5 separate regions of the Homo sapiens genome follow, and all the other regions are reported to be linked to region 4. The links are microRNA targets in miRTarBase. Many come from high-throughput screens and were not tested one by one. Region 4 holds a microRNA gene; each other region holds the end of a gene's coding sequence.

Region 1 (6,403 bases), not on the chromosome of region 4:
TTAGGACATTTCCTCCCAGCTGACCAGAATTTACAGCAAGGTCTGGCAGCGTTGAATATGGGTTCTACCTGCTTTTCCTGGAAAGAGCTGGGTTTTCGTTGGGCATAAATGCCATGGTTAGGTAGGGACAGCACAAGCAGTGCCTTTCCAGGCCAGCACCTGCCCTGAGCCCACGGATCATTGGCAGTTAGTCCTAGAGAACTAGATGTCTCTGTTGGCAAGTAAAATCTATCTTCTTTTTTAAAAATTGAAAGATCTTAAAATTTTAAGATAAGAACTTACTTTGACAATTTTCAAGCCTTCAAAAAAGTTGCAACAATAGCACAGTGATTTGCCAAGAGTTAACATTTTACCTGTTTGCTTTTTCTCTTTCTATACACAAAACTTTCTTTTCACCCGAACCATTTGAAGTAAATAACCTGATGGCCATCACCAAACAAACTTCTGTGCCAGGATTGTGTTTTTTGCCACATCTTGTTTTTGCCACAGTAATTACTGGCCAAAAGAAAAAGAAAACAATAACAGTAACCCACATAATATGTTTGTTTGCTGTCCTTCTCTATCTATTTCCTTCATTTCTCTTTCCTTTCTAAACAGATCAGGCCTAAAACAATAACAGTAACCCATGTAACATGGGTTATTGTTTTCTTTTACTTTGGGCCAGTAATTACTGAGAAATTAAATATATTGGAATAAATGCTATACTCTGTAGTATTATTCCATAGTATAGATACTGCCACTTACAGTATCTAACCAGAATACATGTTCTTTTATGACTATAAGTAAATGAAATAGACATATACTGTCAATTGCCTCTAAGTTTCAGGGCATAATTTTGTTTATTTCCTAGGAATATTATTCTCTTTAACAAAAGTGGTGTTGTACAAGCCACATAGCTTGTTAGAACCTGAGCCAAAACTAGAACCCACAGCCCTGACCCTTGGGTCAGTCTTAGTTACAGTAACTCCCAGTTTAAGCCACTTCACATCCTTTCAGAAAATAGGATGCTTAAAACATTTTTTTTAAAAATCAAATCTTTCCCAAATAAGCAATTTGTGTTTAGTCTAGGTGTCTCATGCTTTATTTCAGAACAGATTTTTTTTTTTTTTTTTTTGAGGTAGAGTTTCGCTCGTTGCTCAGGCTAGAGTGCAGTGGCGCGATCTCGGCTCACTGTAACCTCTGCCTCCCGGGTTCAAGCAATTCTCCTGCCTCAGCCTCCCGAGTAGCTAGGATTACAGGTGCCTGCCACCGTCCCTGGCTAACTTTTTGTATTTTTAGTAGAGATGGGGTTTCACCGTGTTGGCCAGGCTGGTCTTGAACTCCTGACCTTAGGCGATCCACCTGCCTCGGCCTCCCAGAGTGCTGGGATTACAGGTGTGAGCCACCGCGCCTGGCCTCAGAATAGGTTTTTTGGAATTCCTTGTTAGAATAAAAATGAGTATGTCACTTTCTGAACACACTCTTCTTTCTTACAGGCAATCTGTACAGAAGCTGGTCTGATGGCCTTAAGAGAACGTAGAATGAAAGTAACAAATGAAGACTTCAAAAAATCTAAAGAAAATGTTCTTTATAAGAAACAGGAAGGCACCCCTGAGGGGCTGTATCTCTAATGAACCATGGCTGTCATCAGGAAAATGGTTGGGAGATTTCTCAATCCCTGAAAGGGATGAGGTTGGGGGAGTTGCCCAGAGGAATCCCTGTTCCCACTGATTTTTATTAGCAAAACATCCTGTGTCTTTTGGAGTACGATGTGTAAGTGCCCATTGGGTGGCCTGTTGGTCACTGTGCAGCAGTCTGCTTCCCAATAAAGCGTGCTCTTTCACAAACACTTCCTGTTTCTGCAGTCTCCACACACACCTACCGCTCAACAGCAGCCTGTGGGTGGACCCAGCTACAGGGAAGCCTTTGGACAGGAACTCAGGCTGCGGTCCCAAGGAGTGTGGACCTCACTATGCGTTCGCCACATCACACCCCCAGAGCTGGCGTTCAACGGTAATTACAGTGGGAAATGGTCACTACCACAGAGCCAGGGATATTCGTTGTTTAAATAATAAAGGCTGCGTTAATGTGGCTATTGCTTCCAAAGGAAGTACAGCTTTCCTTTTTGGAAGTTTTGTGGACCATGCATGTTCTTAGCACTCTGAGGGCAGAAAATAACTACTGGTGTTCCCAAGAGACTGAGGATTCCTAGAGATATCTTGAAAGCCCTTCTGAGCCCTTGGGCTCAGAAATCTCATCCCTTTCAAGGTGTTCAGAAACATGTCAGAACTTCCCCTTCCCTTTCTCCGTCTATTTCCGTCATTTCTCTTTCTGAACAAATCAGGCCTAAAGCTATTAAGTGGGACAGATCAAGGTAAGCGTTCCCTTGACAGGTGGCCTGGTGTGGGTTGTAGGGCCCACACTGAATGAGGAGTGTGTATTAGTTTTCTGTTAATACTATAACAAGTTACCACAGGCTTTGTTTAAAAACAGCACAATTTGGCCAGGCACGGTGGCTCACGCCTGTAATCCCAGCACTTTGGGAAGCTGAGGCAGGCGGATCACAAGGTCAGAAGTTTGAGGCCAGCCTGGCCAACATGGTGAAACCCCATCTTTACTAAAAATACAAAAATTAGCTGTGCGTGGTGGCAGGTGCCTGTAGTCCCAGCTACTCAGGAGGCTGAGGCAGGACAATCGCTTGAACCCAGGAGGCGGAGGTTGCAGTGAGCCAAGATCCCGTCACTGCACTCCAGCCTGGGCGACAGAGCAAGACTCCGTCTCAAAAATAAATAAATAAATAAATAAAAACCACAATTTTATCTCAGTTCTGTAGGTCAGAAGTCCAACACGAGTGTCTCCAGGCTAAAGTCTTGCTGTTGGCAGGACCGTTCCCTCTGGCGTCTCTAAGGGAGAATCCGTTTCCTTGCTGAGGATTATTGTTGGCAGAATTTAATTTCTTGGAGTTGTGGGCCAGCTGAGGTCAGCATTTCCTTGCTGGCTGCCAGCTGAGGCCTTTGCCAGTCTGTGAAGGCCACCCTCCCTCCTGACTCGTGGCACTTCATTTTCCACCAGCAGCAGCAGGCCCAGTCCCTCTCTCCCACCGACCCTTCTTTCTGCCTGCCTTTTCTATTCTTATGGATCCTTGTGATTGCATTGGACCCATGCAGATGATCCAGGATAATTTCCCTGTTTTAAAGTTTACAATCTTCTTAATTTTTATCTGCAAAGTTCCTTTTGCCATGTAACATTCACACGTTCCAGGGCTTAGGGTGTGGCCATCTTTAGGGGCGCCACTCTGCCTACCACAGAGGACATCCACACGTGGGGGTGGCCCAGTGCAGGGTAAGGACGGGGTGCTTGTGGGGAGGGCGGGTGTCAGCCCAAGTAGGGTGTGGAGCTGTCCATGTGGAGGAACACCACAGCACGGGGACTCAGCATGGGCAGGGTGAGGCTGGCATCCGTGTGGGGTGTATGTGCAGGGCTGGGGTGGTCCGATAGGGGGAGTCAGTGTGGGCAGCCTGATGTGCAGTATGAGAGCCCAAGTGGGTGAGGAAGGCATCTGCAGGGACGGGGTGGTGGCAGGGGAGGGAGGCTGCTTATGTATGGAGGCAGTCAGGCAGGTAAACAGGACAGTGGGAGCCAGGTTTCTCTGAGGAGTTAGACACAGAAAGAAGAAAACAAGAACGACCTCTGTCCACTGGGAGCACCTGGGAACAGTGACACCCCAACTGCAGTGAGCACCCCTAGACCCAGACCTTTGCTGCTAAAAGTATTATTCTCCACTAAAAGGAGTGAGGGCTGATTCCGGGGCTAGGCAGGGAAAGGACAGGATGAACCCAAAGTCTGTTTTGCCAGAAAGCAAGGGAGTGCTCAAGGAATGATAAGGACATGTCCTAAGGACACCGAAGCCTATGTGAAGGGGCTTCCACTGGCCAAACTCGGGACAATCTGAGCATCCTAACAAACAGTTACTATTAATGGAATACAGTATAGCCCTTTAAATAGGGAACTACACACACACACACACACACACACACACACACACACACACACACACACACACCCCAATACATATGAATTGATCTGAAAGTTTGCTGAGGAAGGGGTATTTACAGATTTTGAGAGTCTGCCACAAAACACTGTTCAGTTAGAAAGGGAAAGTCACACTGGAGATGCCCAGCAGACACCGTCTTCACCAAGTGGTCAAATGCACATCATCAGTAATGGGCACTTTGAAAGTACGTGCCACCCAAGAGTGTCAGTGCTGTCACACTCCTGCCAAAGATGCTTAGCCTGAATCCAGTGCTGAGGAAACACCAGGCAAACACAAACTGAGGAACATTCTACAAATTCAGAACACTTCAAAAGTATCCACGTCTTGGAAGTCAAAAAGCTTCCAATCAGAAGGAGACCAAAGAGATGACAACCAAGTGCAGCTCCTGCTCCTGAACTGGATCCTTTTCCTAGAGGACATGACTGGGCCTGAGGACCTGCTAGGAGTACTGCGTCCATGCTGACTTCCTGTTCAGTGTCTGTATCGTGGGCGGGTAGCAGACTCTCAGCAACTGACTCACACGGTTCAGGAAACAAAATTCTTTGTAACGCACTTGCATCTTTTCCTAAGTTTGAGATTAAAAAAAACAAAAAACCCCAGCACATCAGTATTGCCTTTTCCTCATTGGTAATAGCTGAGCGTTTTCCTCTAGAGGGACAGTCTCCCTCATGTCAATTCTACAAAAGCAGCTAAAGCAAATGCCAGGGCCTAGAGTGTCAGGGTAGCGGGCTGAACTGCGCCCCACCCCAGCTGCTTCTCCAGTTTGCTTACTGACCAAAATGCTGAAATTACCGTTTCGGCAGCTGGTCACTGAGGCCTGCGGTGCCAAGTGCAGGGATGCAGGTATGAAGTGCTTGTGAAATAACAGAATTCCCACAGTAATTTCTTCCCTGGCTTCCTGCACTGGTGAGCCGGACAGGGAGAACCCCGTCTGCCTGCGGAAAACCCACTGGCTCTTTGGAGCCCTTCCTCAGTAGAACAATTTAAGGTGAACTCTCCCATCACTCCCTCTGCAGCAAGCCTATCTTCACTTTTCCAATGCAAAATGATATGTGTGCCTTACAAGTAGTAGCTGCCTCCTCCTACTGGGAACACAGCACAGAGGTGCCTCCTGGCCTCCTGCAGGCCCAGCAATCCTGTGCCAGAGGCATTGCCACTGCTTCATTCCAGGAAAGAACACTGTCCCAAACCCGAGGTGGGCCGACCCCTGTGGTCTGATGTGATCAGTGACTCCTTCGGGGAAATGACGAGCGTTCCTGATGAAACACATGAGCCACTGTTTGACTCCAGCTGGGAACCCCCTTCTCAGCCCTCCAAGCTGACGGTTAGTCTTGGGAGGCACGTAGTCATCTTTCAGAAGTTCATGTCAGCAATCTCAAACGGGCTGTTTTTTTTTTTTTTTTTTCGAGACGGAGTCTTGCTGTGTCGCCCAGGCTGGAGTGCAGTGGCGCGATCTTGGCTCACTGCAAGCTCTGCCTCCCAGGTTCACGCCATTCTCCTGCCTTAGCCTTCCGAGTAGCTGGGACTACAGGCGCCAGCCACCACGCCCGGCTAATTTTTTGTATTTTTAGTAGAGACGGGGGTTTCACCATGTTAGCCAGGATGGTCTCGATCTCCTGACCTCGTGATCCGTCCGCCTCGGCCTCCCAAAGTGCTGGGATTACAGACGTGAGCCACCGCGCCTGGCCTCAAATGGGCTTTTAAATAACAACAGTGATGCTCTTGACATCTTGTTTTCTGTAAAATGCCCTCAAGGAATCTTTGATTTGTTTTAAACCTCCTCCCATGCAGCAAGTAATGTGCTCGCAATCTGTTCGAGCAGCCGCTTTATCCTCTCGGGGGCTCACTGCCCACTGCTAAGAGCCATTCCTGGCTCTCAAGGGACAGGTTGCCACTGGGGTTTGGAGGGAACCAGCTGATCAGAGGCCACGCCCTTCTAAGTTCTGAACCAGATGAGAAGAGACATGAGTCAGATGGGGACTGAGGCGCCAGCTGCTGTCATGGGGAGCATGGTTTGGTCCTGGACTTCCTACTCCCTGCCCCCAATCAGGTCGGTGACATGTCTGGCTGATGTCTGCCCCACGCAGAGGACAAGGGTGGAGAAGGTCCCTCTTTGTGGGCAGCCAGGAACTCATGACAGTTCAAGCCAGTTAGCTCTCAGGGAGGGGGAGCAAGTCCACCTCGGAGTGGAGCTCTCAACTTCCTCAAGTTGAGGGTTGTTTCTGTGAAAAGGCATCAAGGGGAGCAGCTGACGACCTGTCTGTCGCTAAGGAACACCCGGTGGGCTTCTGCCTACAGCCACCTGTAGCTCAGGGACTGGGGACGAGCAGGAGAGGGCAGTAGTGGGGCTGGGCTGGCCAGTTTCCCACC
Region 2 (6,403 bases), not on the chromosome of region 4:
ATCGTTCCTATCTGGTTGGAGGCAAAGGAGGCAGCTTCATCTCTGTGTTAATCAGTACTTCCAAAGCAACTGGCATTCAGCTGGGCTGTTCTGGGTGTTAGCCCCTGCGATATAACCCCCTGAGGTTAATGGGGTCACATTGGAGCCAGCCTTTTCCCCCACTCCAATACTATTTACCCATTACAATCTGTGCTATTTTTCCATTATAATATGGGACAAATACTCACTGAAGAATGATGGAACTTCAGGCACTGGAACAGATCCGGAAGAAACCTGGGGGCAGTGTTTTCTTTTGGGGACTCTCAAATCCTTTTACCTAGAGCTGCTGTGAGACTGAGGAATGAAGCAATCAGGGGAGGCATCTGGGAGGAGGAGGGGGAAGTGCCTTGACTCAGTCTTGCCTTCTTGCCCTAGGAATCCAGAAGAATGCACAAGCCCTGCAACAAATGCTGAAGCACCCACTCCTGTGCCACTCCTCCAAGCCCAAGCTGGACACTCTTCAGAAACCCTATGTTCACAAAGAGAAACGGGTAAACATCCAGCTCACTGAATGTGTAAATGGCCCCTGAGTACCGCCCACAATTACAGATGTGGCTGTCACCTTGGGACCCTCTGAGGGCCATGCTTTCCCAGCACCCCCAGATGCCCCCCAGCCTGTTGCTGTGACTGTATGAAGTTAGGCCAGGGAAGTCTGTGCATAAACCTGGGATAACACCCTCCTCCATGACCTTCTGCCAGGCCCAGAGAATCCCGATTCCACCCCCAAAGAAGACTAGAGCCCAACTTCTGGATGACATCTTCATTCGCTTGCGGGATCCCCGGAACATTACAGAGGCTCCACTAGGTACGGCTCTGCCACAGCTGCCAGGATCCCAGATCCAGTTCACGCCTGCTGGCTAAAGGCAAAGAAAGGGCTTGTGTCAGTGCAGGAAAGGCCCTTAGAGAGCAACTGCCTACATCAGTCTCTACATGTAGATGGACAAAAGGAGAGCCAGCGTGAGGCAGGGAGTTGCCTAAAATCACACAGCATGTTAAGGTCCTGAACCAGGGCTTAAGATAGAGTCAATGCATAGGGGCAGTAGGAAGTCAGTGACTTCCCAAGCTGGAAAGGCCATTTTTAGCCCCTTAGCATCCTCCTGCCACACCATCCCATTTTCCAAGGGTCTCTGGACCCAATCCTCTTGCTTCTGGCTAGGTGAGAACCAGGATGAGCTTGGTGCCTCTCCTGGCTTCTTTTCCTGCAGGTGCTGTCCTGCACCAGTGGACAGAACGGCGGCTGGTGAACCACAAGCAGTACCTGGAGGCCAAGAGGCTGTTGAAGGAGTTCCAGGCACGTTACCGGCAGCTGGTGAGTGGCTCTCTGCGCACAGTGTTCGGGACTACCCCGCTCCCCATGGCCTGCCCAGCGCTGAGTGAGAGCCAGCCCAAGTTCGGCCACTTCCTCGAGTTCATGGATGAGTTCTGCCAGGAGCCCACAGCCAGTGACTCACAAGGCTAGAGCTGTGCATGGGGGCTGTGTGCACCACCCGGCCTGTGCCCCAGCTCTCCCCGAGGGCTCTGTGCCCTGGACCGCACCTCAAGGTTGACCAGCCGGCCACAGGCCTCAGAGCTCAGCTGGGCCCCACTTGCTGGCCACAAGGTGGCATCCCCTTGTCAGGATCTCCCCTCCTTGGCCCAGGCATGACCTGGTGCCTGGCCCAGCGGCAATAAAGAGTGGGTGCACAGGGCAATAGACTGGGTGCCACATGCATTCTTTCTTGGAACCCAGGCCACAGCAGCATTGTCACACTTCCCTCTAAAAATGGTTTTCCAGTTCAGATGCAACAGGGATACATTTGTTCTCTGTTGTATGAGAAACTGACACCAAGGGGATCTTAACAAATTCCTGAACAATGGCTCCAAAAAAGGGTATTTTTAAAAACCAGATCTTGTGAGTACAGCCCTAATGTGCAGGGACAGTGTCATCCTGTATATTCGTTCTTTACTCAGACTCTTTCTTGGTTCCTTCATTAGGAGCATGAATGGTTGAATGTGAACATGACAGTAAATTGGAGCAAACTGTAAACTGGACATAACTTATGCCAAAAGACGTAGTTGTACACCATGGAAACCCCATCCCTGCTCCTAATCTCTACTGCCATTCTGAATGCCAAAGCAAGACATCCAACATGGGGCATCTCCCAGAGCACATACAGCACCAAAAATCCACACACAGCCTAAGCTTAACCCATGTTTTTGTCTGAGATTGTTCACCAGAGACAAGACTCTGACTATAAACAGAACATCCACTTTCATGAGTTTCCTTTACTGTATTCTCAACTTGGGCCTTGCTTCAAGCAGGCAAACATACATTGAAGAATGCACTTTGGTACTGTTTAAATAACAACACATCAGCCCACTTGATTCCATGCCATGTCCTTGCTGACAGAAACATCCCCAACAGGGCATGCCCTGGTCCAAGTCCTCTGTCTTTGTCAAAATGCTCTTCTGATGAGTTGGAGAGGAGGCAGCCAGCAGTGGCAGTCCACAAGGATCCAGGTACCTTCTCCAATCCTAAAGCAGACAGCAGGTTGAATAAAACCAATACACAACCTATTTTCTAGGCAGGAGGGGAAAAGGCCCTTAGGACAATAATATTTGTACAAAGAGTTGAGAGTAAACAAACAGTGTATCAGGTTCAAAAAAAAAAAAACTATTCGTTGGCATTTAAATTTTTTTCCCTTGCATAGTATCTATTCTCTCACTAGGACTTTTAAGTGCTCTGCTGGAGGCTCAGCGTTGGTAATACCATGTTTGATGCAAACTTGAACCCAATGCTCTCATTGGTGGCACAGCTTTGGAGGGTGGTGGCCCCAAGAAGGGGCAATCTGCCTGCTGCTATATTAATCTGGAACCAGGGCCAACAGCTACTCTTGAACTATGGTATTTGAAGAGCGAGTTCATTGCCTGTTTTACCTTAAATGACAGGAAAGGAAGATGAACAAACCTTGCTTTGCCTTGGCTTCAAACTAGTTCTTGATTTAAGACACCAGAAAGGGAGAGAGGGAGTCTGCTTAGAGTTTGAGGTTGCCTCTCACAAGATGACAGTTAAAAGTTGCCACCTTACTTAAAAGGCATTAAGGAGGCATTTACTCACAAAGGAGAGAGAGTAAATTTTTTTCTTAAGAGGAAAAAAATACTGATAATACATAGAACAATCTGCACATCCAGTCTTGGCACTTTTTCCAATTTGACTGATCTCTAAACTGGTGACCCTTGCATATATCTTAGTCTCTTTTCTACAATCTTCTTCAGAAAGCTACAGCAGCTAACAATCATGTATAAAGATGCATTTCCTAGATCATCTTCAGAAGAAAATCTCTTCAGCACTTTCCCTAGAATCTGTCTCCTGACCACCCCGCCCCAGACCTGCTTTCTCTTTTGAGAATTCATAACCAGGTATGTTTAGATACCAGTTCAAAAGACCACTCTATGGGTTGATGAGGAAAAGGCTGCCTGAGGACAATTTAAGACCATAATGAGTTTCCAATTTTTAAAGAAAATTTGGCTAGCTGGCTTTTAATTCTTAATTAAAATCATTAAATTTAATTAAAATTATTCCAATCAAAATATATCACTTTCCAAGATTCCACATTCATATTACTTACTTATACTATGGAGACTTTCTCTACCTGAGCATGTATTCAGGGGCTATAGGTACATTTAACTCTAACTAACTGAAAAAAATCAGGAAGAAAAAACTATTAAAATAAAATAACCTCCTAAATCATTTGGGGGTATCCCCATCATTGGTGCGTGTGTCTGCGTGTGTCAAACTTTAATGATTATTTATTCAGACCCTGGAAAACCACACTATAAAATAGGGCACTGGATCACAAGTTCGTTTGGTTAAAAAAAAAAAAAAAAAAAAGTGGGGGCGGGGGGCAGAGAAGAAGTTTAACTTGGATGATTTCCATGCCCATTCCAGCTGTAACATTCTATGACTGTGACCCAGCCTTTGTTCTCTTTTCTCACTCTCCTACTAGACATTTCAATGAAAAGTTAGGCAGGAAAAAGGAAAGGAATCCCAAGTTGCTGCCAGCTCTGATGAGAGATCAGGTTGGGGGAGAGATTAGGTGGTTACTGAATTGAGGTGTGGGCCTCCCCTGACCATGTCAGTGATCCACAACCCACCTCACTTCTTGGGGCTTAAGCTAAAAGCAGCTTCTGAAGAGATGTTAATGTCCTGTAATCACTAGAGGAGAAAATTCATTCTCCTTCCATAACATTACTTAGTAAAGGAAAAGCGGTGGTGCAATCAAATTCACAAATACCAATGGGGTCTCTAAAATGTAGAATGCAGCTTGCTGGGTGCTGGTCAGTTTTCTAAATGGGACCAGAAATGGCTTTCCTAAGACCATAAATGAACTCTCCAGCCACACATACATTCAAATGCATTCCATTAGACATTGAGCTCCTCAAGAGCAGGAACTGCTTTATCTCCACAGTCCAGCTCAGGGTTGGCTCAAGTCTGAAGCTCAGTAAATGTCTGTCAAATAGAAAAGAAAGGATGAGCCTTCGGTCATCAGCTACATGAGTCAGGCACGGTGGCAGCTTCCCATTTTAGTCAGTTTGCCAGTTTGTAACCAGACAGTAATCAATTAAGAGCTTTAATCTCTTAAGGACATTTTTCCTTTAGGGAAAATGAACAAAAAATAAAACATTTATTACCAGTGCTGCTTCCAAGCAAAAATTTAAAAATTAAATTAAAATTTAAAAAATAAGTGAAGCCACTTAGGAGTTTCCCTGGCAAGCCTCACCCAAGAAGACTTAACCTTTTTTAAAAAGAGGCAAATAGATTAAAGGGGCCAGGGGCTGGATGCATAATCCCCTGATCTGATACCAACCCAACAGGCCCAGATGACTTCTTCCAGCAGATACAATCAATGGGTCAAGAACATTTTCTCAAAGTTTCTTTCCCTCTCTATGGAAAAGAGCTGACAGCCCCCTTCTAAGGGCACCACATTTCCTGGATTTCCCCTCAGACTGACCTTCACCCTCCCCCCTAACTTCCCCTTTAATAATAAAAAAACCCAGAATGCATATATACAAGGAACAGAGTAAGACATGGGTAATTTGTATGGTGAACTGGGCTTCAATGATTTGTGAGGAATTTGTTTTGTGAAATCCTGCACCTCTTATTCTAGCTCACAAACCCTTCCCATCGTTCTGTTTCCTTCCTTGTCCTTTTCTGTTCCCCCAAATAATACACATCAACATATCGACTTTTAACCAACTTCAGAATCATGGAAGGAGAGAGGGAGATTTTTCAGAAAGAAAAGCATTCAGGTTTTAGTTATTAAGGATGGGAAGCATCTTAAAATTCAGATAATACCTTAGTGGTTTTTCCTTCCTCCAAAGCCAACCTGATTAAAGATCAACCCTCCTCCCTCCTTAACCTAGACCACTCTACCTATATTTGAAGGACTGTTGCTCAGCAGGAAGTTTAGAAAACAACTGTCAATACCATCCTAGGCATCACTGTAGGTACAAGGGGGGAAGGCAGTAAGCTGGACCTAGAGTTTGGACTATTTGCTTAACAAGAATTTGTTCTTCATTCTGCACTTGTTACAACTGCTATGCAATTCTTAAAATGAAAGTATTAATTTGGGGAAATATTTAAAATATATATCTTTTATCTATTAAAAATATTTCTTTTTACCAAAGACAAAAATCAATTCCAACTGAAAAGTGTTTTTCAAATTACTGGAGATATAGAGAAAGATGGCAAGTGGAAAAATAAGTGTCTTTGCTCCTACCAACAAGACTAGCCTTCCAATAATATTTACTAAGATCAAAAAGGAAATGCGTGAAATGGCAGTAACTGATAAGTTTCCTCTAAGGGCATTTATAGTAAGGTCACCCTCCCTGTCTTCTGTAAACCAGAGCCAGCTCTTCTGTTTTGGGCACAAACATGCCCTCCAGCAGCTCTTGGAGGACATAAATTGTTGGTAGGGCCCAGAACTGAAGTGGTGTGACTACAAAATCATGAGTTTGGTAAATGTTTTTAAAACATACATCTGCATATGTGCACACACACAGAGAACACAGAATGCATACATTCAGGTGAGTGATGTTCCCCACCAACGTAGTCACCAAAGAGATTCCACCTATCTCAATGATGACCACAATGTTTAAGACATCTCTGGAATTTCTGTTTGGGAACTGTTTGGGAACTATGAGCTGCACAAGAAAATGGCTCTGCTTTACAGCAGCACTCATTACTACAAACCCACTTGATAAGCCACCTTCTTTCCCAGAGGCTTCAAATAGCTGCTGGCTAGTCTCAGACATTACATTCTCTCTCTCTCTCAACCACAAATAACCACAAAACACTGAAGATTTGCCCTGAGAAAAGGCAAAT
Region 3 (6,403 bases), not on the chromosome of region 4:
TTCTTCGCTGACTCAGACTAGACGTAAAGCCAGAGTGCCAGAATTTTCTTGCACTGATTCTCCATCCAGGGGGATTGGAGGCCAGGGGACACCTGCACTTGCAGAAACCTGTCATGAGGGGAATCCTAAGTTTAAATAACATGAAGCCTTTTTTTTAAAAAAGTGTTTTTCGTTTTTTTTTGTTTGTTTGTTTGTTTTAAGTGAAAAGGTCTCACTCTGTTACCTAGGCTGGAGTGCAGTCGTTTAATCATGGCTCACTGCAGCCTCGACCTCCCGGGCTCAAGCATCTTCACACCTCAGCTTCCCGAGTAGCTGGGACCACAGGTGTGCACCACCATGCCTGGCTAATTTTTTGTATTTTTGGTGGAGATGAGCTTTCACCATGTTGCCCAGACTAGGCTCAAACTTCTGAGCTCAAGTGATCTGCCTACCAAGGTTGGGATTACCTTCCAAGGTTGGGATTACAGGTGTTAGTCACCATGCCTGGCCATTTTTTGTTTGTTTGAGACAGGGTCTTGTCCTGTTGCCCAGGCTGGAGTACAGTGGCACAATCACAGCTCACTGCAGCCTTGACCTCCTGGGCTCAGGAGGTCCTGTCACCTCAGCTTCCTGAACAGCTGGGACCACAGGCACGTGCCACCATGCCCGGCTAATTTTTTGTAGAGGCAAGATTTTGCCATGCTGCCCAGGCTAGTCTCAAACTCCTGGGCTCAAATGATCCACCTACCTCAGCCTCTCAAAGTGCTAGGATTACAGGCATGAGCCACTGTGCCCGGCCCCACACAAGTCTTGAACTTCTAGCCTCAAGTGATCCTCCAGCCTTTGCTTCCCAAAGTGCTAGGATTACCGGCGTGAACCACTACACCTGGTCACTTGAAGCTTTTCTAATGGGCAGTACATCTTGCTCCTTCCACCATTCCTTGTAGGAGAGAGTGTCTCCTGAATCCTGGGTGACATCAAAGGATTCAAGTTCTGCCTCCCCTTTATTATTATTATTAATTTTTTGAGACAGAGTTTTGCTCTTGTTGCCCAGGCTGGAGTGCAATGATGTGATCTCAGCTCACCACAACCTCCACCTCCCGGGTTCAAGCAATTCTCCTGCCTCAGCCTCCTGAGTAGCTGGGATTACAGGCATGTGCCACCATGCCCAGCTAATTTTGTATTTTTAGTAGAGATAGGGTTTCTCCATGTTGGTCAGGCTGGTCACGAACTCCCAACCTCAGGTGATCTGCCCGCCTTGGCCTCCCAAAGTGCTGGGATTACAGGCATGAGCCACCGTGCCCGGCCTTCTGCCTCCCCTTTAATGATTACTTTTAGTTCTGAAAAGTACAGGAAAGCTGCTGAAACAGGTATTGTTTTAGCCTACTATCCGTTCACTCACATTTACTGAACATCTACTAGGTGTCAGATACTGGGGCTATAGCAGTGGAGACAGACAAGATGATGTGTTTGAGGGAGGATGGGAAGGAACAGAAGTGCTTCTTTAAAAGTGATGACATTGGCCAGGCACAGTGGCTCATGCCTGTAATCCCAGCACTTTGGGAGACTGAGGCAGGCAGATCACTTGAGGCTGGGAGTTCGAGAGCAGCCTGGCCAACATCATGGTAAAACCTGTGTCTACTAAGAATACAAAAATTAGCCGGGCGTGGTCGTGTGTGCCTGTAATCCCAGCTACTCAGGAGACTGAGGCAGGAGAATTGCTTCAACCCAGGAGGTGGAGGTTGGAGTGAGCCGAGATCGCACTACTGCACTCTTGGTCTGTCTACCTCAACCCCAACTCTGCATGCTCTGAGCAGCCAGCTCCACCCAGCACTCACCATCCCACCCACTTTCGTCTCTCCTGCTTCAACATCTCCCTCATTCTGTTGTGTCTCCTGTAGTTGCATTTGTTGCAGTTCACTTGAGCTGAGCCCCGAGGCCCTTCTACCTCTAGTACTGCCTGTCCAGGACAGGCACAAGCATCCAGGCCTGAACGGGATGGATATGGCCCTAGAAAACAGAAAACAGGATTCCAGTCCCAGCTAAACTGGGTATGGCAAGACAAGGACCTGGGTTCCCATGTGCTCATGCTGAGAACTTGAGAAGGGACAGGAATTCTGCAGATCAACACAGCTTCATAAAGGCCAGCCAGGGGCTACCACCATTTTGCAGTGAGAATAATGTTTATTGAGAATGGCTCATTACAAACAAAATATATATAAAATCTCTGCAATGCAAAAGATCCCTTTCATCCCCGTGGCTAGAATGAACAAAGCCCAACTGTCCCACATGGCTTCAGGTGCTGTGCTGGTCCCCAGCATGTGAACAGGCTGGGCAGCTGTCGGTGTCATGTGCTGTGGGCAAAAGTCCCTGATGTCCAGGCTCTCTGGCTCCATTTTCATGACTTGTGCAAGAATGCAACACAGTGTGTCTTACATCCTGCCTCTGTGACCCTCCCTAGGCAGATGAGTCTTGAGAATGGGCAGCTTTCTCATTCATCTTTCAGGAAGGTGACCTTTAACTTGTGGCATGCCCTGAGAAGCCATCCTCTGGGACCAGAGACTGAGTGTTTCTAAACATTTTGGCTGGACTGAGGTGCTGTTACCACCCTCCATGAAGGCCACTCCCTAGTGACAGCCCTAACAGCATGTGCACTGTCTAAATCACATCCCACCATCCTGAAAACTTCATTTCCTCCCACTGGTTTCCTTCATACAGCTATTCTAACAATTTTACCAGAACACCACCTGAAGATGCCCACACCCCACAGCTGCTGTGCATGGGTACTCCTGGGCCACCTGGCATTAAGGCAATGGAGATGAGACCAGTCTAGAGCCAACACCGGTCTCTGAAACCCAGAAGGGCTGCCCAACTAACAGCACCTCCCTCTTGGCCAAAGGCTTTGTCTAGGGTTGAGAAGCAATTTGGCTGGGTGGTCTCACTGCCCTCCTAAACAGAGCCCACCTCTGCCCCCAGAGTCATCTGTGCTCCAAAGCAATGGGCGGGGGCACAGCTGCCACCATGCCATGCCTTGGGCATTGGAAGAGCAGGACCCAGGAGTGCAGGGATGGTATCACTGTTGCCCCTTTGAAAATGACCCATTTCCCACTTTGGGAGGCCGAGGCAGGTGGATCACCTGAGCTCAGGGGTTCGAGACCAGCCTGGCCAACATGGCGAAGCCTGGTCTCTACTAAAAATACAAAAAAATTAGCCGGGCATGGTGGCATGTGCCTGTAGTCCCAGCTAGTGGGGGGCTGAGGCAGGAGGATCGCTTGAACCCAGGAGGCGGAGGTTGTAGTAAGCCAAGATCGTGCCACTGCACTCCAGTCTGGGCAACAGAGTGAGTCTCCGTCTCAAAAAAAAAAAAAAAAATCCATTTCCTTTAGTTTTTTAGGTGCAGACTGGGGTTCAAGACCCAGCTCCACCACTGTCCTGAGCAGACTCCCAAGACTGGGCCAGCTGCCTCGTCAGCTGCCTCGTCTGAGAGGTGAAGGGGCAGGTACTTAAACCACTGGCCAAGTCCCTTTCTCTGAAAAAGAACTTGAGCTGGCTAACTGCCCTGTGCAGAGGTGTTAGTGGTTCCAAAGTACCTTCACTCTTGCTATTACTGTTTTACTTGAAGGTGATTACCCCTCAAAAATGAAAACTTAAATCTCAAAGAAACAACCCCTGACCCCAACCTCCCCAAAAAAGAGGAAGGAAAGAGCTCTATGCTACTTGCTGTGTTGTAAGATCCTGGGCAGGAACCCCTCTTCTCCATCAAGATAGACAAGACCCAGTATCCTGTGCAATCTGGTGTGAAGACCAGGTTGGGTGGGCAGCTGCAGGCTGCCCCAGCCCGTTGCTTTGGAGCACAGGCCTTAGCAGCCAACCTTAAAGGACTAGGGGCTCCCCACACTCAAGAGGGCAGACCCTGCTGTCAGGATTTTGGCTGGTGTCAGGAGGCCTCCTGGGTGCAGGGATCCCTCTGGGGCTAGGGCAGCTGTTTATTCCCAGAGCACTGCTGCCAGCCACGAGGCCTACCAGTGGGATCTAGGCCCGAGAGCCCTCCATCTGACAGAGCTGGAGGACCTGGAGGGCTGTGGGGGCTTTAAGAGTCTCCAGCGGCCAGGGCTCTGCATGGCAGGGCAGCTGTGAGGTGTGTCTATGCTGGGTGGCAGGGGTCAGATGCCCTGTAATGAGCCACAGAAACTTGGGCCCATGGGTAGGCAGGTGGTGGTGGTATCATCAACCACTGGGCACAGGGGCATATGCAGCACTTCCAGGAGAGAGGGGCCTGGAGGGGTCCTCAGCCCTGGGGGATTGGGGTCAGCTATGCTGTCTCCAGACACTCACATACTGTCCTGACAAGTGGCATCCGTCAAGCAACTTCTCTCTCCAGGCTCAGTCCTGCGGTCTGTGGGGAGACCATTGCCATGGATCTGGCTCAAAGGCAACAAGGGCACTGTCGGGACTGGACTTCCTGTGGGCGCAGCTGGAGTCAAGGCTTGGGGTCTTGGGGTATGCTTCCAGCAGCCAGCAGGTGCTTGGGGTGAGTGACATGACAACACACGGCACTGGCAGACAAAGCAGCTGTGCCAGTCTCCGAGTTCCTGGGACTCTGCCAGATGGGCTGAGGCTGCAGTTCCACATTCCAACCCCAGCAGCCCCAAGCCTGGGCCAGGGCATCCTGAGCGGGCCCGGCTGGGGTGGGGATGGGGTCCGAGGGCCTAGGCGCACCAGGCTCCTGCTGTCAGCTGTCCAAGTAGACAAAGAGGATGTCCTCATCTGTGCCATAGCTGGTTCTGGCCTCCTCAAAGTTACTGATGCTGGTGCTGCACATTCCTGCTGGGGGTGGGGAAGGCAGAACGGGGTCAGTGGGTTGTGAGAGAGCACCTACACCACCGACACAGTGCCCAGGGGAGCTGAGTGAGGTCTGTTTCCCATCCACATGGCCATTCCTCTCAACTCAAGTCCTCCACCCCCAGGAAGCCCTCCTTGCCCATCCTGGTCTTCATGAGGTTTCTCTGACTCCTCCCCAGTAAAGCAGTTGGAGAAAGGCCCAGAGAGGGGCAGAAACGTGCTCCAGGCCACATAGACGGGGTAAGTCTATGTGGTCAGGGCGTCCAGGGGCTGTCTATGTGAATCCAGTCTATGAGAGTCAGGGCAGCCCTTCCCTGTGCCCGGAGGGCAGTAGGCAGGCCAGGATGGGTCTAGAGCAGGGGCTGGGTCTGGCCGGGCTTTTCTTTCTGAGGAATGTGCCGGCCATCCTGGTGGTTGGGGGAGGGGTGCAGCCTGGGCAGCATGAAAGGGTAAGGCAGGGACCTGGGCAGTGGCGTGGGGCCTGTGGTGTGAGAGGGAGGGGTGGCCAGGGTGTAGAGGAGGCTGGCACAGTTTGCGGCAGGTTTGCCTGCATGGCCTGAGGGGTGGCCACAGTGACAAGAGCCCAGGAGGAGCAGGGGCTTTGGGGAAAAGGTAGGGAGGGAGGCCCTGGCCACACTAGATTGAATGGGTGGGAACTGTGGGCACTGGGCATACAGAACAGTGAATGTGGACCACTCTGCCTCACCCACCCCACCCAGCACTCACGGTCGGCATAGGCTGGGTTGTTGTAGAAGATGCAGCCAGTGGCCCGGTTGTAGCCACGCAGCACGATGAAGTGGCCCTGGTAGTCAGGAGTGCGGCAGAAGCAGTGGTGGCCACTGGGGGTGAAGCAGCAGTACTTGACAGGGCTGGAGCACAGGTCACAGTGCAGCACCCCCGAGTTCACCAGCACGATGGCCACATGGCCCTGAGCCAGGTGCGCCTGGATGTCCTTCACACTCACTGTGCTGTGGGCGGGAGGGGGGTCAGCTGGTGCTGCTGGGCCCCCATTCCCCATCCCTCAAATGGATCCCTGCTTGTGCCTGTTTCTCTGTTACAAAGCTTGGGGATCGGCTCCTTTTCCCTTTGCCCTGAACTCCCTGCTCTGTCACTGTGGCCCAGGCTCAGCCTAGAGCCAAGCAGGAGACCGGTGGGGGGGGTGTGTGTGTGTGTCTGAATGTGCACAAAGATGAGCTGGCTCTGTCAGGCCCTTCACGGGGAGAGCATTCAGCTCCAGGTGGGTCCAGTCAAGGGCCACTAGAGCAGCACACAGAAACCATCCTCCTACTGCACCCCAGCCTGGTTAGTGAATTCTTTTTGCCCAGCCCTGTCTCTCCTCTACCCTAAATCATGTGTGGTTTACATTGAAAACTGCCAGCCAAGCATGGCTCAGACACTTTCAAAACCAAATGCTTCTCTGAAAGAGCTATTTTACTTTTTTTCTAAGGCTCCTGGTGGCAGAAGGGGCTGCCCAGGAAGGGCTGGGCCACATTGCTTCCAGGGGAGCTCCAGTTCAGCAATGACATCTACCTGGAGCCTCCCTCACTGGCAGAAGGCACTGCCCCATCCTGTGCCTTCCACT
Region 4 (6,403 bases):
TCTTGGTTTTACTAGGAGTTACCTGGGAACTAGAATACTTGCAACATCTGAATTAGTGAACACAAGATCCTCTCTAGGACTTCAGGGAGAGCCTGTCAGTTTTGAAATTCAGTTTGATAGTTTGCCCCGGTAACAGACATACTTCATCTTCCTAATATGGGAATAATTTTTTTTTGCCTTCCTTCTAATCATGACTATTGCCTTAATATAATAAATGCAAGTTTAAATTGGTACATTAGATTCTTTTTAACGTAAGGAATTGTGTCCATTGAAGACGAGATTAGTAGGTACATAGAGGTTGCTATCTGGTCATAAAGAACTGCATTGTGATTGCTACTGATGTATCTTATTTTTTCTGATTAATTTTATTTTTATTTTTTGAGAAGAAATTTCACTCTTATTGCCCAGGCTGGAGTGCAATGGCGCAATCTCGGCTCACCATAACCTCCACCTCCCATGTTCAAGCAATTCCCCTGCCTCAGCCTTCCTGAGTAGCTGGGATTACAGGCATGCGCCACCACGCCTGGCTAATTTTGTATTTTTAGTGGAGACGGGGTTTCTGCATGTTGGTCAGGCTGGTCTCGAACTCCCGACCTCAGATGATCCACCCACCTCAGCCTCCTAAAGTGCTGAGATTACAGGCGTGAGCCTCCGTGCCCAGCCGATTCTTACATCTCTTTAAAAGGAAGACGGTCCACCCTTCTTTGTTTCTCCATCCTGCTGTCTAGATGATGATAGGATTCCTGGAGTTCCAGCATCTGTCCTGGAACATAAGGATTAAAGCCACCTGCTAAGGATGTGGACTATAGAAGGGGCCTGGGCCTCTGATAATCTGCTAACTTGCCATAACCACCTATCTCAAGACTTACACGAGAAATAAATTCTGCATTGTATAAGTCTGTACTATATTGGACTTTTCTGTTATGTGTAGCCAAACTAATCTTGAATAATGTATTTCCAGAACTGATAGTCTCTGTGGTGGTGGCAGCTACCTGTTTACATAACCCTTATCACCCCCTAATGTATTTTTTTTAATTGCCTGTTTCTTCCCACTAGACTTTTTAAGGGCAGGGACTTTGCTTGGATTTTTCTATCTCCAGCCCCTTGAACAGAGCTCACCATATAGTAGGCGTTCAGTAAATATTTGCTAAATGAATGAATGGTGCTTGGAACTAAGTAGATCTTTAATTCATTGTAATTTAATGCTCTAAGATAGGCAGCTTGGGGCAAGAACAAACGGATTCTAATTTACTCTATGTTTTCCACTTTTCCCATGTAGAGTACAGTCATATATTACCCTTAAATCAAGTAATAGTAGTATAATCTGTAATGTAAAAAGTTTGCGTTAAATTCTTTATTAAACATGACTAAGCATTCTGTCCTGATATATCTAAAAGAAATGGGAGAAAGTTTCTAATTTGTTCCCTGTGAAGACTGAACAAAATAAATCATTAAGCAATTTAAATTGCATTAAGAAACTATGTCTAGATTAGAGAAGAGACATGTAATTATGATCCAGGCTCTGTAGTAAAGATGCCTCTATTTGAATCCCAGCTTTACCATTCACCAGCTCTGTTAACTTGGACAAGTTACTTAACCTCTCTGCACTGTTTTTTTTCTGTTAAGCAAGGAAACGAACAGCCCTTTCTTACTAGGTTGTGAGGTCTAATTTGATAAAGCTTGGCAGGTACTAGTATTAATACAATGCTTAAAATTTAGTGAACACATTCTAAATGTTAGCTATTCGTTTTTTGAAATTATTTTATTATTAGGAAGGACTTTACAGATTATTCTCTATCAAAATGTCTTGCAATTTCTATGTATGAAATCTTTAAGAATTCAGTAAAATTTTAGTTCTTTTTTCTTATATGCTTACATGATTGCTACCTCTTCTCTTCATGCCTTGCAAAAGGTAAAGCAGGACAGTATGCCACTGTCCTCAGGGGCTTGTCACATTTTGGAATTCAGGTTACCTGGTTGGTTCGCCAACTCAGCTCTTAGGTACCTTTAAAAAATATTATGATGGTTTTTTTTTTTTTTTCATTTTTCGAGTGGGAGTAATAGTCTCTTGCAGTAGTCTGTGTCCTAAACTGAACTCTCTCATACCTGAAATCTTTAAATATGTGAATAACGATTATGTTTGGAAGATTTAAATTTAATTATTGGTGGAAAATTGTTGACTTAATCATTCACTTCTAATTCTGGTTCTTTTGATTTTTCATAATTAGGATTTTGAGTTGTCTCCTGGTTTTTATTATTTTGCACATATCTGAGTAAAAATACAGATATGTGAAGTTAGATAAAATTTCCAATTGGAACCTAATGATTCATCAGACTCAGATATTTAAGTTAACAGTATTTGAGAATGATGAATCATTAGGTTCCGGTCAGAAATTTTTCATTCAGTTTCAGAATCTTTGGTTTTGACAAAATTGTTGTCAGTGTTTTGTTTGTGTTCTGATCACTTGGTACCCATTCTCTCTCTCTCTCTCTCAAAACATTTGGAATTCTTCAAACTACAAAATTATCTTAACCTCTGAAGTTCCATCAAAGGGTATTTGGCCTGAAAAACTATTATCAGCCGTAAAGTACTCAGGAAACAGTACTTTAGTCAGTAACATTAGTCAGTAACATTAACACGCTAATTGTGAAACCATTATAAAGGCATTTGAAAGTAATATTGAATAATATTTTGATGATTGGAAAAAGATTGAATTGGATTTTAAATGTTTAAGACTTTCAGAACTGGTGTTTTGAAGGGTACGATATGCCCACACATCGGGCACTAAAATCTGGTAGTTTTAATGAATTGCCATTTTGATTTCGAGTATAATCAAGTTTTGCTACTGTGGTGCTTAATCACATGGAACTGAATTTTTATTTACCTCCCCATTTTAGTATCACCATCATCATCATTATCATCATTATCATCCCCTTTCTTCTCCTTCTTCCCTAAACCTTGCAACTCATCACTTGAATGTTGGCACAAGGTTAAAGATATGGACTTTGAAACTATTATTTTCTCAAGTTAGGAAAACCCCAATTTTTATCTCCAGTTTCATGGGATCACTGGTCCTAATCTGTGTCATAATAAGGCAATATAGTTCGGCCTCAACAGAAATAGATGGTATGGTAAACAGAATAATAAACCCCTAAGAATGTCTATGCTCTTATCTCTGGAACCAGTAAAAATGATGAAATTATTCAGGCAGGCCCAGTGTAATCAGATAAGCCCTGTAAAACAAATTTCAAGTGTGAGAAGAATTTGACAAGCCATTGCTGCTTCTAAAATATTCAGGACCACAGACACACACACACACACACACACACACACACACACACACACTCACACACACACACACACACGCAGAGAGAGAAGTGAGTGAGGAGATAGATATGTTAATTTGTTTGACTATGGTGATTATTTCACTGTATATGTACAGTATATCAAAACATCACTGTTGTGCACTTTAAATATATACAATTTAAAAACATATACAGAGCCACATGCAAAGACTGGGGAGAGGCCTCTAGAGCTAAGGTTAAATGCCAGCTGTCAGTTTGCAGGGGAACAGGGATCTCAGTCCTATAACCATAAAGAACTGAGTTTTGGCTTGGCTAGGTGGATCATGCCTGAAATCTCAGTGCTTTGGGAGGCCAAGGTGAGAGGATCACTTGCAGCCAGGTATTTGAGTCCAGCCTGGGCAACATAGCAAGACCCTGTCTCTACAAAAAAAATTTTTTTTTAAAATTAGCCAGGCGTGGTGGTGTGCACCTATAGTCCTAGCTATCTGGAAGCTGAGGTGGGAGGATCAGTTGAGCCCAGGAGCTCAAGGTTATGTTGAGCCATGATCATGCCACTGCCCTCCGGCCTGGGCGACAGTGTGAGACCCTGCCAGTAGCCTGAATGAGATTAGAAATGGATTCTTCTTCAGAGAAAGATGCAAACCTGCTGACACCTTGATTTTAAACTTGTGTGACCCTAAGCAGAGAACTAAGTTGAACTATGCTATGTTTGAACTTCTGACCTACAGAAGCTATAAGATATTAATACTAAATGGATGTTGTTTAAAGTCACTAAGTTTGTAGTAATTTGTTACAGCAGTGGTAAGATACTAACACATGAAGTGTGGGAAGGTATGTAACCAAATCATTTATTACTAGAATAAAGGATCCATAATTCTATTTCTTCATCTACAACCCTTTAAAGTGCTGACTATGAATCAGACTGAAAAACAGAGTGCCATAGTAAAAAAATTAATAGCTAGTGTCAGGTTTATAACTGATTTTGTTGTTTGCTTATTATGCCCATAATCTTACCACCTAAAGACTATTGATGTTTTAATATATTTCATTGTTACCTTACTCTTTTTTATGCTTATGTAAAAATATGTGCCAAATTTTCAATTGCTGTTAGGGTAATTTTCTGATGTTATTAAATAATCTTAACAAACATTATTTCTTATACTACAATAATATTTCATCATTTGGCTCTGCCATGCTTTATTTAGCATTTCTTTGGTAATCTCTAATATTTAGTCTTTTTTTTGTATGATTGTCATATTCCTTGCACTGGACAATTTCAGGTCTAGTTCAAGTCATAAAAGGATTTTCAGTTAATTATGTTATATTTAAACTCACATCAATTGGGTTTTTTTAAAGAAAAAAAACCCTAGATCTCGAAGATGGTTTTGTTATCAGCACATTCTGCATTGAGCTTTCAGCCAACTACTTAATCTATGCTTAGCTTAAAAATAAGATTTGGCTGGGCGCTGTGGCGCATGCCTGTAATTGCAGCACTTTGGGAGCTGAGGCAGGTGGATCACTTGAGCTCAGGAGTTCGAGACCAGCCCAGGCAACATGGCAAAACCTTGTCTATTTTTTAAAACATAAGATTTGACTTTGTTGTGGTATAAGTTGTTTCATAGAATATGAAATTTGAAAATTTGAGTAGTATTTGGTAATGTTCAGAGTTTTAAGCCTTTTGAGTTGTAATAAGTATTTGTTAAATCAGTTTACCATTACACGAGTTTTACATTGCCTTTGAAGTCGTCAGTAATAGAAAAATAGTGTATGTACTAAACTACACAGTATTTTTTATTATTTCAACAAATATTTCTTGATACTACTGTATGCCAGGTACTAACTACATCAGACAACTGGAATATAGTATGGAATAAAATAGTCAAGTCTCTGCTCTCATAGAGTCTCTGGGGTAAGGGGAGAGGTGTGGAGAGACAATAAATATAAAGAATGTGTATTATATCAGATGAATAAATGCATTGAAGGAAAATATAGCAGGATAAGAGGGTAGAGATTGATGAAAGAAGTTCAATTTTAGATAATTAAGAAAAATGAAAATATTGACAGTTGAAATGGAAACTGTTTACCAATATAAAAAATAGTGAAGAAAATTGTTCATTAAATGTGATTTTTCTATGTGATAGTTCATGTAGGAGTATTTTGTATATAAATTTAAATTTAACCATTTAAAGTACTTAAATTGTCTTTTCTATTATTCTAAATAGTTTTAGTTAAAGATGTTTGTTGATTTGAAGTATTTCATTGGTTCTCCCTTATTTTGTTATTTATTTATTTATTTTGAGACAGAATTTTGCTCTTGTTGCCCAGGCTTCAGTGTAATGGCACGATATCGGCTTACTGCAACCTCTGCCTTCCAGGTTCAAGCGATTCTCCTGCCTCAGCCTACTGAGTAGCTGTGATTACAGGCACCCGCTACCACACCTGGCTAATTTTTGTATTTTTAGTAGAGATGGTGTTTCACCATGTTGGCCCAGGCTGGTCATGAACTCCTGACCTCAGGTGATCCGCCTGCCTTAGCCTCCCGAAGTGCTAGGATTACAGGTGTGAGCCACTGCCCCTTATTTTATTTTGTTGGGTTGATCACACTCTTGATTCTCTGTGTTAGGATATTAATCAATTCCTTGAAATACTGTAGTATGTAGATAAACAAAAGTCTAACATTGATTTTACAAAGGAGAAAAAGTTCATATTGCCTTTGATTAGTAAATTTTTTTAAGTATAGAGAGATATCAAATTTTTCAATTTTAAAATAGAGACTTTAAATCTCTATACTCTAACTTTTTTGAGTAGAGAGATATCAAGTAAACTATTCGCTGATGACTGTATCATAAAATTAAGAATGTTTTCAAATGTATGACTTTAATAGTCATTGATAAATTTTCTGCATATAAAATAGTAGAAAAATTAAAAATGAGAATTTATCAAAGTAAGTTTAAAGATTTATGTAGATAAATGGAAGTGATAAATATATTTTGTAAAGCAGTGAGTAAGAATTTCATGAAAGTTGAGTTGTTAGGTGAAATTAACACAAAAGAAAAATACTATTTCAAAAAACAAAAGGTTACTTTTAAATGGTCTC
Region 5 (5,943 bases), not on the chromosome of region 4:
CACAGCAAATGTAAAGAAAATTCATGTGGTGTTCCTAATAATTATTTTAATGTTGTTAAATGGACATGAATTGAAACAGAACTTATTTATATTCACTTAACGTTTGCATATAAGGTCAAATTGCTTAAATACTATTACAAGAAAAATATTTTATGACTCTGAAGCCATCTGATTTCTGCATATTTCTATAACAATAAAACAATTTGAATCACCTTAGAATTCACTGTAATAGGATTTGGCCATGTAGCACATATAATCAGATTGAGACCAGTTAATTTCGGAATTCCTTTTTCTAACTGAAATCCTACTTAATTCAACAGATATTCTCAATAGAAAAACAGAAACCTCTTAAGAATGAATGCAAGTAAAATATACATCTTATCATAAAAACAATCAGTACATTCTAACCAAAAATATATATCAAACCACAGTGAAAAAAGTAAAAACCTAGTATTAGATAAAATTTTACTTTCTTAACCAAAAAATTCATTGCACATATTTACCATTTATCTGTTTTTTTAAAAATCCCCCAAAATATTTCCAATAACTGCTAAGTACTATACTTTTTGCTTGTTCATGAGATTACTAAACATTTACAATGCAAGTGTATTGGCTTGGAGGCATCCTTGCAGTAAATGAGGGCAGGATTCTTCAATACACTGTAAAATGCACCAACCTTAGTCAGGTTTTTAAAATGGTTCACTTTTAAATATGATAGCTGGTAGCTGTCCAAGTCCATTAGCACCACATATAGTGAGTTAAAGAGTGTTTTCAGAGAAGATGACTCGTCTTTTTTGTTTTTAATGTTTAAAAGTTGTACAATTAAAAGAAATTGACTTCTTGGGTCATGTGTTTTGAATGACACTTTTCATCTTGCTCAGGATTTCCACCCTCCTCCCCGGATTATAAGCATGAAGGTAGGAAAATCTGGGGGAAATATTTTTGCACTTCAGCAAAGAATCTTGCTAATAATATCCATGATTTGGTTCAATTTCCAAGTCAGATTAGTTTCTTTTGTTAGAGGTCTCAATATGTATTTACAGAAAGAAATGAAGATGATTCTGTAGGACAAAGTAGCAAATACTTTCTATATGCAATCCATACACAATGCAAGAATTCACCCAGATCATTTAAAATCATCTAATGTGCATTATTTCCTCCAAGTGGAGCTCTTGAACAAATACCTTACATCTCATACTTCATCTTTATTACTTCATCTGTTTCAAGTAGTAACACAATCACTCAATTTACACAATGGGGGAATACACACTTTGAATCCTAACCTGTGAGGTAGGGAAGTGCACTCTGGTATTATGGCCATTTCACACAAGGAAAGATTGAAATAGGATTACTTTTTCAAAAAATATGGCAATCATTGATGAGATCAGATGCTTCCCTTTCAATATGTAAATAAAAATGCAAATAAGCCCTTCTCATTTTTGTAAAGTATATCTGGATTGAAAATAGTGATGAAGGCCGGGTGCGGTGGCTCATGCCTGTAATCCCAGCACTTTAGGAGGCCGAGGCGGGAGGATCATGAGGTCAGGAGATCAAGACCATCCTGGCTAACACGGTGAAACCCCATCTCTACTAAAAATACAAAAAATTAGCCGAGCGTTGTAGTGGGCGCCTGTAGTCCCAGCTACTTGGGAGGCTGAGGCAGAAGAATGGTGTGAACCCAGGAGGTGGAGCTTGCAGTGAGCCAAGATCGCGCCACTGCACTCCAGCCTGGGCGACAGAGTGAGACTCCATCTCAAAAAAAAAAAAAAAAGAAAAGAAAATAGTGATGAAAAAGTTAACTTTCAATATTCATGTAAAATGCTTTTTACTGGTCTCAACACACAGACATGAAGGAATACTGACATTTAAATTATAATGTGCTTTAGCAATAACTTTTCACTTTTCTATTCACCCACATTCATGGCTCATTTTTGGCCGAGAATAAATATTTGCACTAGATTATTAGGATTTTCCAGGACCATTACTACCAGGCTGGCTTTGAATCTACTCTCCCCTCTTTGGAGAGAAGTTGATGAATATGGCTCTTAAAGAAGTAATTCTGCAAGATGAATCCTATATTATCTGTGATAATTTACTTGGGAATTTTCCCTTCTCCTGGATGAAGAATAATATTCCCCTTGTTTTGTTTTTGCTGTTTCATTTTTTAACTTTTCACAGATAAATCCATGCAGAAATGGATATATACAGATCTGTTGAGGCAGAAAGAAAAGCGGGGGAAAAACCCACTCTCCCTGTTTCTACACTTTTGCACTTAGTAACAATTTGCCTGATTGAAGGATTTGTGAATGGTTCTCTTTTTTTTTTTTTTTTTTTTTGAGAAGGAGTCTCGCTCTGTTGCCCAGACTGGAGTGCAGTGGTGCAATCTTGGCTCCCTGCAACCTCCACCTCTCGGGTTCAAGCAATTCTCCTGCCTCAGCCTCCCAAGTAGCTGGGATTACAGGCGTGCACCACCACGCCCAGCTAATTTTTGTATTTTCAGTAGAGATGGGGTTTCACCACATTGGCCAGGCTGGTCTCGAACTCCTGACCTTAGCTGATCCACCCGCCTTGGCCTCCCAAAGTGCTGGGATTATAGGCGTGAGCCACTGCCCCTGGCCAAATAGCGCTTATAAGAGACTTAAGACTAGGAAACCACTCACGTTTAATATCAATATGCATATTCTGCACACTATCTGCTGAAATTGGGAAAATGCAATGTATTTTTTGAGTTAAGCCTGCTGCTTAGGAATGTAACAATTACAAATCACATTCACAAAAGTAGCTCACCTTATTCACCATTTTAAACATATATGTGCACTGTAAAAAATAAGTTTTTAAAAACTTAATGTGATGTTAGCCTATACACAGAGCTGAATTATCAAAAGGAAACCAGACTTTGTTATATCAGAGGTCATTAAAAAGCTTATGGCATACCATAAGTGCTCAATAAATACACCTTCCTCCCCCAAAGCACTCCAATCTCCATATGCCATTTTAGCAACTCCCTGTATGTTATGTCATTTTACACTGCAATCTGTGCTGACTTCCTCCAATCCAGAAGTGACTGCATTTCAGTGGTAGAGTTTTATAAACTTGACTTAATCTTTAGCACTTCTGCGCTGGAATTGTACCTTTTAAGTTCTAGAGATGATAAATCTCTCATTTGTTACTGAGTAAGAAATGCCACAAATGTATAAAAGAATTCTTCATTAAGCTTGTTTTTTCTGCCGTGACTCTGGAGAGTAAGTCACTGTAGAAGATTGTTTATTTTATTATCATCAGAGGCCATTTCATTAACCAGCTGTTCTATTGACAACTGAATAGCATTCTTGACTAGAGAAGAGGCTGTTTCAATTAAGAGTGTTTCATATTGTTCTGAAGTTCTATCCTCAAAACCATTATCATTAGCAAAAACCCCTACTTGCTCATTTTCAGCTGAAATTAAGAATTGCTTAGGGACATTTTTAGATTTTGTAACATCAAATTCACTGATTTCAGTGTCTGTAATAATAATAGCAATTGGCTCCATTCTTTTGCTTTCTTCTGATTTGGATTTCTCTTCAGTGATCCCATTTTCTTTAAAATCTGATTCTTGGCTCAATTCAGTATCTTTTGGCTTAGTTTCTTCAGCTACAATCTCTGTACTTTCATAGTCTTTTCCATTTGGTGCACTTTCTAGGGTACTGTTACTGGCTTCTTCCACAATTTGTTGATCTGGAATTGCAGGTAAAGGAGGAACATCAGAAAGTACTGGCTGCTGATGGTCTGTTTCTGAAGTTTCAAGTGGGCTTGCTTGCTGGGGTTGAACATCTTGTTTTTCCTTGATCGTTTCAATTTCTTCAAGGATTAGAGTTCCCGTTTGAATAGCAGAATGCCCATTATCTAATCCAAGTTCTACTGAAATCACTTTCTCTCCAGAAGTTGTGCTATTGCTCACATTTGATTCACAGACCTCATCACCATCTTTCCGTGAGATGCCTTCACTTAGATCCTGGGTTGACTTAGCCTTTGTTGCCTGATCATTCAATGGGGTCTGTGTTTGTATATCCAAAATTTCAGCTTCTTCCTGGACTTTGATGCTGCAGTCTGAGTCTTCTATAATTTTGGAATGATTACTCCTTTTTGGCCCTCTTGGGAATTTTATGCAGGGAATCTTAAGTCTAGATTTTGCCTTTTTCTTAGAAAGATCAGCATCCTCAGCATTTATTGCAGGTTGCATTTCACCCTCCAATGGCTTTTGCTGCTTTGAAGACTCTGACCTTTTCCTGCGTGTTACAAGACGTTTGAGTGAGGCCCAGGCCCCCCGTGTGGGCTCTGGCTGATCAGAAGCTCCTGCTTCTTGTGGACACTTCCTTGCCACATCAGCAGCTTCAGAGCCAGCTTTGGGCTTCAGTGCTTTGGCTGCTTTCTTTCTTCTCTTGAAGCAAAGCATGGATGCCTTTTCCTTCTGCCTTTCAGCCCCAGGACTACCTTCTGCTGATCTCTTCTCATCCTTGTTTTCTACATGAATTTCTGAAATTGTGGTTTCCATTTTTACACTGCACTCTTATTCTCTAGAAAACTGTATTCTCTCTTCCTTAGCAGCCTTTTGTGACAAAAAGATGAGCAAAAATGTCACACTAGGTAAAATTTCTTCCAGGCATATTCATACCTTTCATCTTACTCCATACAGTTGTTTTAGGTGGTTTCTCTAGTATAGAAATGCCCAGTTTCTCTATGGCTTGTAATTTCTCTCTTTAATTTCTTGATGAAAGCCCTTCTTTGGATAAATTTTTGCTTTATTTAAAGATCAACCTGATGAGAGAAAAGAAAGTGGTATTTTATTTCACTATGAGCCTATTATTTTCTGTGGAGACTATTTCAGTGAATGTATAAGATTCTACCAGGCATATTTTCCATATAATAACTTAATGAAATGACTGGAGAATAAACATTGGGGTTTACTTTGGCCCTATTAAAGAGTTCAGTGTGATTCTATTTTGTTTTATCCTCCTTGTTGAAACTTCATTTTGGATTACCCTGCAAGTCTGATATTATCAGTTCTTTAGTTGTGTTGTCTGTGTGAATTGCTTATGACTCTAAAGTGCAAGTTAAGCAAACAACAAGAACCAAAAATGAAGTGCAGGATGAAAAGCAAGCTGATGTAATCTTTATCACACTCAATAGATAATTTTAAAGCTGCAAAGGACTTTAGAGATTATTTGAGATTACTCAAATCCAGCCAGATGACAAAACTGAACTCCAGAGGGGAGCAGTTGTCTTGTCAAAAGCCATGCAACTAGATAAGGTCATAGCCAGAGTTAGAACTAGAGACTTTGACTCTCTAGTTTTACCATTATAACATAAGGTTTCTGTTCTAAAAATGTATGTTCCATCAAGGAAGTGCTATTTTTCATACATATTCTTAGGAAAATTTAGCATTACTGTCATTTCCCACTCTTAAATTAGTTGTACAATTTTGACATTTTCATTTAAGTACTGTATCTGCTGTATCACATGTTTCCACCATAATCTGCACATAGTTGGAAGTCAGTAAGAGTAGTAATAGCTGACATTTATTGAGCAATTCTTGGGTATTAGGCAGTGCATGCACTTTTACATACATCTCTAATCCTCACCACAATATTACAAAGATGGTGGTATCACCACGTACAGATGAAGCAATTTGGCTGAGATTACGGCAGAGCTGTAACAGAGCTCAGATTAACACAAGATTGCTTGTTGCTTAAAGCTTATGTTCTGAAACTGGGCTTTAAGAGTTTCGTCAGAAAATGAATTGTTTGGGGATACTAATCTGCAGTGTTTCATTAGTAAAAAAATTAAAAAATTGATTAATGGTCATTTAACCATAAGGCACTTATCAACTCATAATTGAACCACGAGTAGACTGAGTTCTTGTCATTTGAAAACCAAGCTTTTGAAATTCTTTATATTTTATTTTTT

The links. Region 4 holds the annotated microRNA hsa-miR-580-3p (UUGAGAAUGAUGAAUCAUUAGG, at 2,360-2,381, shown strand). A microRNA usually pairs through its seed, bases 2 to 8, with sites in the 3' UTR of a target mRNA and lowers its output. Matches are read on the target gene's strand: a 7mer-m8 pairs with bases 2 to 8, a 7mer-A1 pairs with bases 2 to 7 and ends in A, and an 8mer does both.
Region 1: the mRNA of PSMC1 is a reported target of hsa-miR-580-3p. Seed matches in the 3' UTR shown: 7mer-A1 at 1,648-1,654.
Region 2: the mRNA of XRRA1 is a reported target of hsa-miR-580-3p. Seed matches in the 3' UTR shown: 8mer at 2,312-2,319.
Region 3: the mRNA of GUCD1 is a reported target of hsa-miR-580-3p. Seed matches in the 3' UTR shown: 7mer-A1 at 2,892-2,898, 8mer at 2,452-2,459, 8mer at 2,167-2,174 and 7mer-m8 at 2,152-2,158.
Region 5: the mRNA of AKAP5 is a reported target of hsa-miR-580-3p. Seed matches in the 3' UTR shown: 7mer-A1 at 2,335-2,341.

The regions. Positions count from the first base shown.
Region 1 is chr14:90,270,798-90,277,200 of GRCh38, forward strand. PSMC1 (proteasome 26S subunit, ATPase 1) reads left to right here. Exons shown (of 11, transcript NM_002802.3): 11 at 1,476-4,632. The coding sequence ends at 1,610. NRDE2 (NRDE-2, necessary for RNA interference, domain containing) reads right to left here. Exons shown (of 14, transcript NM_017970.4): 14 at 1-6,403. Among named protein-coding and RNA genes, the nearest start is that of PSMC1, 17 kb to the left of the region's middle.
Region 2 is chr11:74,838,295-74,844,697 of GRCh38, reverse strand. It overlaps XRRA1 (X-ray radiation resistance associated 1), which reads left to right. Exons shown (of 19, transcript NM_001378157.1): 17 at 415-530; 18 at 739-844; 19 at 1,245-3,788. The coding sequence ends at 1,498. RNF169 (ring finger protein 169) reads right to left here. Exons shown (of 6, transcript NM_001098638.2): 6 at 2,285-6,403. Among named protein-coding and RNA genes, the nearest start is that of RNF169, 93 kb to the right of the region's middle. RefSeq lists an enhancer at 1-845.
Region 3 is chr22:24,538,295-24,544,697 of GRCh38, forward strand. GUCD1 (guanylyl cyclase domain containing 1) reads right to left here. Exons shown (of 6, transcript NM_001284254.2): 5 at 5,548-5,789; 6 at 2,144-4,803. The coding sequence ends at 4,712. Among named protein-coding and RNA genes, the nearest start is that of GUCD1, 14 kb to the right of the region's middle.
Region 4 is chr5:36,143,885-36,150,287 of GRCh38, reverse strand. MIR580 (microRNA 580) reads left to right here and starts at 2,300; the gene lies at 2,300-2,396. The region is part of intron 1 of LMBRD2 (LMBR1 domain containing 2); the gene reads left to right.
Region 5 is chr14:64,466,983-64,472,925 of GRCh38, reverse strand. It overlaps AKAP5 (A-kinase anchoring protein 5), which reads right to left. Exons shown (of 2, transcript NM_004857.3): 2 at 1-4,794. The coding sequence starts at 4,531. The coding sequence ends at 3,248. It also overlaps a transcript of ZBTB25 not described here. Among named protein-coding and RNA genes, the nearest start is that of AKAP5, 4.5 kb to the right of the region's middle.